3 linked regions of the Homo sapiens genome follow. The protein of the gene in region 1 purifies or fractionates together with the protein of each later gene. This does not show direct contact. Each region holds a gene or a part of one and is shown on either strand. Other genes may lie near its edges.

Region 1 (3,657 bases):
AAATCACAATTCCAACAGCTCACAAACTGAATGAAATTAAAAATCGAATGGAAAGAAATGAACTAATGTTCCAAAAGTCAAAAATTTTAGCACAATTTTGGCATCTTAAGGGGAAAATCATGACTATCACAGATGAAAACAAATGTCATTGAAATTGGTTATTTTTTTCCACTAAGTTACAAAATCTATATAGAAATTTGATACTATATCAAATTGTACTTCTCACAGTTCTGAGTTAATTTCCTTTAAACTCTGTTTAACATATCTTTGTTGTTATAATTGTTACTTAAGATACTGAATCTGGTACAAGTTTTGCTTCTTTTGCTCTTATATCAATATTTAATATCTGGTTTACCAGTCCTAATCAGCACTTTCAGCAGAAATTACTAACGTGCAAGTAAATCATAACAGGTGTAGCTCTTCAGAGAGCTCATTTTGTTAAGTTTTCATTGTCTGAATATTTAAAATGATGAATGAAAGGCTTTTCAGTCTTACAGAAGTCAGTGTGCTTGGTTTTACTAGTGTATAGTTTCACCTCCTTGGACATGAAGACTTGTCTAAAGCTAATAAAACAGAAAAGTACTTTTCCTTTTTTGCTACTTAAGAACGTAGCACAAATGTTTGCTGAGGTAGCCTAGTCAATCCTAATTTTTTTCCTCTTTATGTGTGTTTGGTCTCAGAATATTTCTGGAAGGGTGACAAAGAAGTCCCTGCTGGGAGTAGGTACATTGAAGTTTCCATGCAGGGCACATGACTGTTCACATGTTATTTTATTGGATCTCACTTCCAAAGTCAGTTGTCTTTTACGTAACAGCATTTCAACATTGTGTCAGGGACTCTGGGTTGGGAGGTATCTAAGTGATATGGTTTAGCTGTGTCCCCACCCAAATCTCAACTTGAATTATATCTCCCAGCATTCTCACGTGTTGTGGGAGGGACTTGTGAGAGGTAACTGAATCATGGGGGCTGGTCTTCCCCCTGCTATTCTCGTGATAGTCTCACGAGATCTGATGGGTTTATCAGGGGTTTCTGCTTTTGCTTCTTCCTCATTTTCTCTTGCTGCCACCATGTAAAGAAGTGCCTTTTGCCTCCTGCCATGATTCTGAAGCCTCCCCAGCCATGTGGAGCTGTAAGTCCAATTAAACCTCTTTTTCTTCCCAGTCTCGGGTATGTCTTTATCAGAAGCGTCAATACAGATACACTAATTAAAGACTGCCTGTTCTTTGCTAATACACTAAGCAAAGATTGCCTGTTCTTGGCTGGCCATATGAGAGAAAATCTACCATTCCATAACAGTTAACAATTCCAACCTTTTCATTCTCTTTTCTAGTTATACCACTATTATCTAGATTTCGATTTGTTTTCACTTTTTATAGTTATCTGAAACAGCAATAAATCATCATCATGAAATTTGTAAATCAGGATAATTCTCAAGGTACCAAGACAAAGGTTTGCCCTGTAGTTTGTTTCTTAAGACAAGTCTTGATGATATTCTCCATAATATGCGTTTATAACACCTAAGGAAATCATATCCAAGAAATTCTTAAATTAGTCTTGTTATTTTTATTGATAATTTGTTCTGTCCCTTTTGGAAGTGTATAAGATGTGCTCTATGAAGCACATTTCCAACATGGAAATGTGATCATTTCCCAAGTACCACAGCACTGCCAAATCCGAATGGACATTTCTAAGTTTTCTTCTCCCCAATTAACCATTCTAGCATATTATGTTTCAATTTCCTAAAAGTAGCCTCTGTTTATTGTTGGCATTCTGACTGGAAGAGTCTAATCACCTTTCCTTCTGTCCATTTGTCTTTAGAAAATTTCTTAGTACACCAGTTAAAATTGTGCTTCCAGCTGAGTATGCCATGGGTCATATCAGACCTGCCATAAACTCAAAACTAATCACTAAGCACTTCAATGACAAGATAAACTACAGTTGTCTTATTTAATCCTGGCTAAGAGGAACTCCAGCCATCTAACTCTATATGCACAAGGAGCACCTGAGATGACCACTTGGCCTGGAGTCATGGCAGCTCTTTTAACCTGGTCAATCCAGAATGCTGTTCCATTCTAATTACATGATCTGTTATTTTTAATTTTAATGCACATAACTTTCTAGAAGTCTTTATTTTAAAAGCCTGTCCCACTGGGCCGGGTGCGGTGGCTCAAGTCTATAATCCCAGCACTTTGGGAGGCCAAGGCAGGCACATCACCTGGGGTCAGGAATTCCAGACCAGCCTGACCAACATGGAGAAATCCCATCTTTACCAAAAATACAAAATTAGCCAGGCATGGTGGTGCATGCCTGTAGTCCCAGCTCCTCGGGAGGCTGAGACAGAATTGCTTGAACCCGGGAGGCAGAGGTTGCAGTAAGCTGAGATCTCACCATTGCACTCCAGCCTGGGCAACAAGAGCAAAACTCTGTCTCAAACAAACAAACAAACAAACAAACAAAAGCCTGTCCCATGACATCACCTACCACAACACTTTTTTCTAGCATATGTCTTGGTGCACAGTTAATCACACTATGGACAGACTGCAAAGGTATGCTCCAAGCTCTGTTGTAAACAATAATTACCACACTTATTTAAACCCTTCCAAGCTAACACTTGATTAAAAGAATCTCTTAAGTACGATCATTTCACTTGCCATTACACTGAACTAATTTAATTTCTTTCATCTTTTAAAATCCACTTTAAGTAGGATGACTTTTTTTTTTTTTTCTCTAGGATTTTCTTGTGGCTTTTTGTACTGGATCTACAACATCTCCAGAAGGAAGTTCTGTATCTTTTTTCCTCAGCACATCTCTTGCATTCACCAAAGTTAAACAGCAAGAACAAGTCTAAAAGGTACCTAAATCAAGGAGATGGATAAGACCACTTTGCAATAGGTGAAATTTCTCATGGCACTTTAAGTGAAATGTAAACATTTAAAAATATATGAAGATATAAACATCATGAAAATTATTCCAATTCATTTTCATCAGCTATGACCTCATAACCTTTTTGTATTCCTGTTCTAAACCCCCGTGTCCCACATCCCCTTGGCTGGGCAGCTGTGATAAAGGTGATAAAGCTGGGCTGCTTCTTGCTCCACAGCACCATCTCGTTGGCCACTGCTGGCAGCTCCCCTAGCTGGAGGGTCTTCAAATATATATTTTCAATATTTTTAGTAGCTTTTATTTCAATTACTCTAATGGCTTCATTACTGATTTATTTGCCACCACTCATTTTTCCATTTTTCTCCTAGGTTCTCATTCACTATTGATTTAGTTAATTTGTAAAATTTCTGCCAGTTTAATTTCCTAGGATAAGGAGTATTTGAAATACCCCACAAGTCATTTTTTTGCGTGTATATAAAATTGAGGCTAATTTATTTTTCTTTACCTTGTAAAAGCTTCTGATGGGTCATCCAGAAATTTTCTTATATAGTAAGTTACTCAAGGAGATGACTCATATGGAATTCCAACGTATTGTGGGTTACCACCCCTGACCCCTTAAGGAATAATCTTAAAAACAGAAAAGGAACAATATGCTGTTGGCCTAATTAAAACTCCTCTTTGTGGGTAGCTGGTTACCTGAGGACACCCAGATGCCATTCAGCATGACTTTTTAATGTTCATTATTGTAAACAGCAGGCTATTTTCCTTACTTGG
Region 2 (3,777 bases), on another chromosome or scaffold:
TGGGCATTCTGGTAATTGAGATGTTTACACTGTTGTTTACTTTTTAATCTCTAAATATTAGGTCATTCTTAAGACCTTCATTATTTTGCTTCTTGTGTCCATCAGACACCATATACCATACTATCATATTTAGTATGAATGAAATTATAAATGCATCAGAAATCCCTGACATTTTCTGAAAATGGACGCATCGAAGAAAATGCAGAAATAAACGCTTGCTATCTCTTCTCTCCATGGCTCTAGATAAGTGTAATGTTAATTTCCATTTTAACTCTCCTTAAAACCTACAGAGACTCTACCTCAATCTGTGTATGGTTATGATTTATATAGAAAGGAGTTTGCAGTTTAAGAAAATATTTTACATGAAAATCTGAAAGTGATAAATGAGAAACTCACTACTTTGTTTAAAAAGGATTCACCTTAGAAGGAAGTGAGACACAAAAAGTACATACTGTATCATCCCATATGTATGAGGGCCAAGAAAAGGCAAAGTTAACCTCTAGTGATGGAAAACAATGAGTGATTTCCTAGGTCCAGGGCAATGGTGGGATCGCACAAAGGGGCATGAAGAAACATTTTGGGCTGATGGAAATGTTTTCTCTCTAGATGGGTGTGGTGGTTTCATGGGTATGTGCTCTGTCAAAACTCATCAAATTGTACACTTTAAATGTCTGGTTTATTATACATAAATGCTATGTCAGAAAAAGTTGTTTATAAAAGGACTAGCCTTAGGAGTCACTAAAATGAGACATTATGAGTATTATTTATTGAGCCTTAAAGTAAGATTTAAATATGATTAATTCCACAAGTGAAAAGGTAAGTCTACCTGTAAGTTTCTTCAAGGTGAGATGTGGGTGAAATATGATCATGAGAAAGCTTTTCAACAGGGGAAGAAGAAGTGATATCAGTGCATTTTAGTAATATTAGCATTCATATAAGATTGGTATCGCTTTATTAATGTGGAATGTACAGGCAGTAAAACAGGTTATTTAATTAGTTGAAATTATCTAAAATAGATCTTAAGAGTTCACTTAGAACACTTTTCTGGACTGCCTTTCAAAGTAGATAACATCAGACACAGTGATAACATAATAACTCATTCAAAACTAAATTGTACATCACCTATGATATCAACATTTTGTATTCACTGAAGGAAATTATATTTGAAAGTGTTTGCCTGTACATTATTTGACAAAGTTGTGGGGATTTTTTGTTTTTTGTTTGTTTGTTTTCTGTTTTTGTTTTTGTTTTTCAGATGGAATCTCACTCTGTCACCCAGGTTGGAGTGCAGTGGCACAATCTCGGCTCACTGCAACCTCCACCTCCTGGGTTCAAGCGATTCTCCTGCCTCAGCCTCCCAAGTAGCTGGGATTACAGGCATGCACTACCACGCCCAGCTAATTTTTGTATTTTTAGTAGAGAAGGGGTTTCGCCATGTTGGCCAGGCTGGTCTCGAACTCCTGACCTCAGGTGATCCACCTGCCTCGGCCTCCCAAAGTGCTAGGGTTACAGGCAAGAAATTGTGTTATTTTTTAAATTTGCCATGCTCAGATATTGGATACCAGGGTGATTTCTTGGGAAATCTAATATGAGGAATGAAGCATTAATTATAAGACCTGATTTTAAATGCTACGTACCAATTAATGTATACCCTTTACATATTCTCCTCTATTGTATTTGGAGAAAATTTTCCAATCTATGAGATAATGCTGATGAATTATTTTCTTAGTGGTCAATATAAAAATGAATGAGGAACTATTCCTAGAAATAATATTGAATCTAATTAATGCCACCTTGTCATATGTGCATGTGGAACATAAGAGTAGCTAAAAAGAGGCCGGGCGCAGTGGCTCATGCCTGTAATCCCAGCATTTTGGGAGGCCAAGGTGGGCGGATCATGAGGTCAGGAGATGGAGACCATCCTGGCTAACAACGTGAAACCCCATCTCTACTAAAAATACAAAAAATTAGCCGGGCGTGGTGGCACGTGCCTGTAGTCCCAGCTACTCAGGAGGCTCAGGCAGGAGAATCGCTTGAACCCAGGGAGCGGAGGTTGCAGTGAGCCGAGATCGCACCACTACGATCACAGCCTGCGCGACGGAGCAAGACTCTGTCTAAAATAAAAAAAAAGAGTAGTTAAAAAGAGAGAAATAATATTTTCTGAAATAACAACACAGGTACTGTTGCAAAACTCAACTAAGTTAGAAATCACTTGCCCTGTCATTTGTTATGCTTACGTGTTAGTAAAATTGTTAGTATTCTATATTGGTAATACAGGAACCCTTGCTGATTTAGCTGTTATCTTGGCGTGTTTATTCTGGATTCATAGTAGGAATGAGCACCTTGTTAGAAGAAGGTTGGTCAAAATGGAAGGAGGAGGTGGAGGTTGGTTAGGTTATTTGAATTCCAAATGGCAGTAATGGGTTCCTTAATGATTAATGCTGTACTTAGGCCACCAGCCTATGCCTTAACCACTCCCTTTTCATCTTCACTTAAGGGCTCAACTACAACCCCAGGCTCTGACTCTGGCTCTGGCTCTGGCTCTGGCTCCAATTCCGACTGCGTTTCTGGCTCCAGCTCCAGCTCGATGTCAAGGTCAGGCACTGCCATAGGCTCTGATCCTGGGGCAGGCTCTGGGGCAGGCTCCTGAGTAGGCTTTGGCTCATAGTCTGGTTCTTGGATGGTATCAGGGCCAGTCTCATGAATGGAAGATGGTAGAGTTACTTCTAGTTGGGTAGCGTCTTCTCTTGGCATTGCTTCGCTTTCTCCCCTTGGGTTTATCTTTGTCATTGGCCTGCAAGAAAGAAGGCCCAGAAAAGAACAAGTTAGGGAGATGCTAACTTTGAAATTTCATGTGAAACCATATGTTCTGTAGCTTCAATGACCATAGGTCCCAGACTTCAGGAAATCTGTTATTTCTGATATTCTGACTCATTGTCAGGCCATAGGTCATTTTGGATTCAGAAAGGTTAGGTCTCAACAATATCATGAAAGTTTAAGAAAGAGCAGTGTTTCAAGGTGGGAAAATAATGTCAGAATGAAAGAGTCTAAGAATCTAATAAGGTCTTTAAGGTCCAAATTCATAGCTCTGATGTATCGCTATTTCTCACTCCATCTAGTACAATACTTGGCACCTGGTTGATACCCAATAGATAGTTGTAGAAGCAAGGAGATGAAAAAAAATGAATGAGTGAGATACACACTAGGAAAGAAATAGAGTGATTAAGAGCATGAGCTGTGGGCTGGGCCACATTCTAACTTCTGTGTTCCCTGGGCACTGTCCTTGTGGGTCTCTTGTTCCATAAAAAAATTTAAAATTATATTTCATGACTATGTTGGTATTAAGACAAGTATGTTAGTATTATATATGAAAATGTTTTCTTGGACCTAAAACTGTTGTGATAGCTAAATGAGTTGATGTACATAAAGTGCTTAGAACAGAGCCTGGCACACAGCACTCAATAAATAGCAGCCATCATCATTCTTTTTTAAATTCAATGAGAGTAAACAGAAAGATACCTCTGATATCTTATACTAAAAGGAGTGCTTAGGAATTGATGACTGAAAAAGACATGCCTGAGAAATGTTTGTATTCAAGTAAAGACAACAAAATGAAGGCTTACTCAAGTTCCGCGATGGTCTTAGAATTTCTTTCTTTTGCCTTTGCTTTTGCCTTATTCCTTGCGAAGCACACAACAGAGATGATGATGGCGGCACCTACCAGGCTACCAATCAAGGCCCCAACAATGATTCCAACTTCTGGATCTGAAGGATACA
Region 3 (3,657 bases), on another chromosome or scaffold:
TAAAAAACAGAAGCATAAAGCTCTCTATAATGTTATATAATTTATTTTTGAAGTTATTAATTGGTAAACTTACAGTAAAAGGTTGAGAAAAATACATGTTCAACTATAATACGACTTCAAATTCAAAATTTCCTGAAAGACAATGTCAACAACTTTTTACTCAGAAAAGGATACAGATTTGCCACGTCATATGGCCCTCTTATTTCTAAAGGCTGAAATAAAATGAACAAAGAGTAGATATGAGAAAATTATTTATAACATTTCAATGACTTATAGCAAATTAATAGAAAATTTAAGTATCCAAAAATAAAAAAATTACATAAATTTAAGTCCTTATAATTTTGATGGGTTTCATAGCTTTTGAAAATATAAGAGAAGCTTGAAAGGCATTTTGTAACAGTATAAAAGAAAAACTGATTATATAAACAAAAGTTGAAGCCTAAAGAAAGTGGGGATAAATTTTACTATTTAGCAATTACAATGAGCAAATGCAGTTAAAATAGAAAAAAATGCAACAAATATTCATTTACTATTTTAATTTATCCCCTAGAAACTGAAAAGTTTTATAACCTGAAAGATGAAAACAAAGTACTTCATGCTAGACTTACCCTTTCTGCAGCACTAGATATAATTACATTCTACAAAATAGAAAGTGACTAATATTAATCTTAGATAAATGTAAAAAAAGGAGTTTCATAATATAAATAGCCAGTAATCATATTTTAACATTTAAGGCTCAAATACCAACTTCTTTTAAAGATAAGGTAAATAATTAAGGTGAAAAAAATGAAAAGACTTCATGTCAAACTAAAGGCAATCTGTAATAAAAAACAAAATATGTTTTCCTAACAGATCTTAGTAAAGGTGAATTAAGTTTAAAAAACAAGATGAAAAGGTCACATATCTTAATTCAACTCAGTGAGGACCATTGTTATTCTAGACTTTTCTTTCACAGTATGTAAATTGCAAATTTTTATCAAAAGATATGGCTTCCAACACATCTTTTTCTCCCTTACATTATTCTTCCCTTGGTATTTTTCTTTCCCTTAAAATTTGCAGAGCTCACTGAAATGGCAGAATTTGTTCCTATGCTATGAGAACATTCTGCTTTAAGGAAAAGGAGTCAGTTTGACAATTCCAGTGTACTACTAATAATAAACTGCCAGATGCGAAAAACATCCTAAAATTATAGAACCATACCTTTCCTTTGCAGATTTGCATCAAATTGAGGGCACTGGAAATTGTATACCTTCTCATTGTGGAGTCTTTGATAGCAGGGCTATAGACAAGTTCAAAAGCCAGGCCTCGGTCAATCGCCTTCACAGGAAATAAAGAGAACTGTCAGAGATAAGCATGCACTGGCCTACTTCATTTTCACTGATTCTCTCTTCACATCCCTCCTCACTCCCTACTACTGACCCCTTACATGTCAAGGTACAGCTTTATGAAAGACAGATCAACACTCAAATGGCACCACCCACAAGGAGAAGAAAATAAATCCGTGGCTCTACTTGATTAAGAGAGTTTAACTTGGCTGTGGGGAAGCTGACTTTACATAAACAGGAATTATGAAGAGGCTAAGAAGAACAAAGTCCCAATGGCGTGAGAGAGGGGCTACTACTCCATGAACTATCAAAAGGAAAACAGAAATGTACTCCCTACATTTACAGTAAACTGTATACAAACATAGTAAACCAAGTAATCTGACCTATGAATGCACAAAGAGACAAAGAAATGAAGAGCTGAAAAAAGCCCAAAGAACCAAGGGCAGGAAGGTCTTTCAGGTAAGTAATTTATTCTCTATATGTTGAAGAGAGAATAACAGCCATAGTTAATTGAGTGCTGACTATATGCTAAGAGAGTCTTATATATAATATTTAATCCTTACTACAATACCTTTATAAAGCATTACTGCAAAGCCTGCAAATTGCCCAGATATCTGTCCTCTCCTTTTTCTTTAGTAATAAAGCCCCTGATTTTTCACTGGGCTTATAGCCGCACAGCAAAAAAGATGGAAGTGCCCTTGAAGATTTTGCCCAGCTCACCATACAAGCTTGGCTTTTTTCATGAGAAACAGAAACTTCTTTATTTAATGTACTCTTACTACAGAGGGATCCACAGGTAAGTAGATGAGTGGAAATGATATTGAAATTAACCACCATACTGTTCAGCTTTCCTAATGAGCACCTAAATGTCTGCATCCATTCACAAAAGATGTTTTAAGCCCACTACGTGCAAAAGCTGAGATGGTTTCTCCCTTCTAAAAGCTTACATTTTAGTGGGGGAGATGATCAATAACCACACAAAAATACAAAACTTCAACTGTGTTAAGTGCTATCAAGGAGAAGTTTAGGGTTGAGGAAGAAATTAAGCAGTTAAATAGTAGAGGAAGGTGCACTTTCAGAGGGAGGTCAGAGCATGCAAAAGTCTTCAAGGTTGCAGCATGGCAGCACGTAGGGAAGGTCAAATGCTGGAGAAAAATAATGAGGAAGACAGGCTAAAGAGGATGGGAAGGGCCAACTGTGCAGGCCTTTAGAGCTGGTGATGAGGATTATTCCTAATGGAGAAAACATCTGAAGGATTTTCAGCATAGAGATGATAATCAGACTCTCAATTGCAAAAGTCACTTGAGTGGCAGTACTCTTTCAAAAGAATAAAGAAAGAATGGTAGGCATGTTCTAGGCAGTATGGTCCAAGTCTCTGCTTGGCAAATGAGTTTCGATTGCCCAGAGTATAAGTTGGGACTGGCCCAGCTGTGACTACTGGGGTTTACTCCTGAGCATTTACGGGGAATGGAGAAACTTGTCTTTTTCTAGAACTGGCAGTCCATCTTGATTTAATTCAGTTGTACTTGAAGGCCCCTTCTGCTTTTCCCTCCCGAACACAGATTTCCTTAATTCTTCCTCCGGCTTCAAGGCTCCCAGATTTTATTTTAGATTTTCCTATATGTCTGATTCTAGTTTGGTTAGAATTTAAATGCTATTTTCCACACTGCAACCTTTCCCTCTCTCATTTTTTGACTTTTCCCCATCTCTAATTCTTTCACCTGTGTTGATTATTTCTGGGAATGACATTTGTTAAGATAGTATTTCTGTCCTAGTTGAACGTGTATCTCATTGGCTCTGCCAAGCTTGCACACTTCTTGAGAGCTAGACTGCCTTTTACATAAAAGGTGTATAATATATTTATATTTTGAGTGAATAAATAGCAGCTTATGGAGAAGATGTCCTGTGATAACGTTGTTCATTATAGATGATCCATCATCAAAGGAACCTCGGTGCACCTGGCTAACCAAAAACCACAGATAAGTAAAAACATCCCTTTTAGCCATATTATCAGCCATCTCCTTGGCTATATATTTTACCAAAACTACTAATTAGCTGAAGAGGCTGACCTGTATTTCTTTTCCTTATCCTTCTAGTTGTGGAACGATAATACAAGGCAACAGGATGATGAAGAGGGGAAATAAATGAAAGAGGTGAATGATATATAGAGTTGGATGCTTAGATCTCGAAATATTCCTAATTGACTGAATCTAAATTTCTAGACCCTTGTGGGTACCAAATCAAAATAAAAACAACTTTTGCGGGGGGAGGGGAGAAAAAAAGGATATTATCAGCATAATTATTTTTTAAGGAAAAAGTTCTGATTTTCATC

Evidence for each region.
Region 2: the proteins of HEATR6 (region 1) and VSIG1 purify together in Homo sapiens (co-immunoprecipitation; one large-scale study listed by IntAct). This does not show direct contact.
Region 3: the proteins of HEATR6 (region 1) and RPP30 fractionate together in Homo sapiens (co-fractionation; one large-scale study listed by BioGRID). This does not show direct contact.

Annotation. Positions count from the first base shown.
Region 1 is NC_000017.11:60,061,877-60,065,533, forward strand, and holds part of HEATR6 (HEAT repeat-containing protein 6), read right to left. Parts: intron 1-3,657. UniProt on the Homo sapiens protein: Amplification-dependent oncogene.
Region 2 is NC_000023.11:108,076,065-108,079,841, reverse strand, and holds the end of VSIG1 (V-set and immunoglobulin domain-containing protein 1 isoform 2 precursor), read right to left. Parts: intron 3,766-3,777; coding exon 3,624-3,765; intron 2,795-3,623; coding exon 2,461-2,794; 3' UTR 658-2,460; downstream 1-657.
Region 3 is NC_000010.11:90,892,435-90,896,091, reverse strand, and holds part of RPP30 (ribonuclease P protein subunit p30), read right to left. Parts: intron 1,318-3,657; coding exon 1,201-1,317; intron 639-1,200; coding exon 609-638; intron 213-608; coding exon 175-212; intron 1-174. UniProt on the Homo sapiens protein: Component of ribonuclease P, a ribonucleoprotein complex that generates mature tRNA molecules by cleaving their 5'-ends. Also a component of the MRP ribonuclease complex, which cleaves pre-rRNA sequences.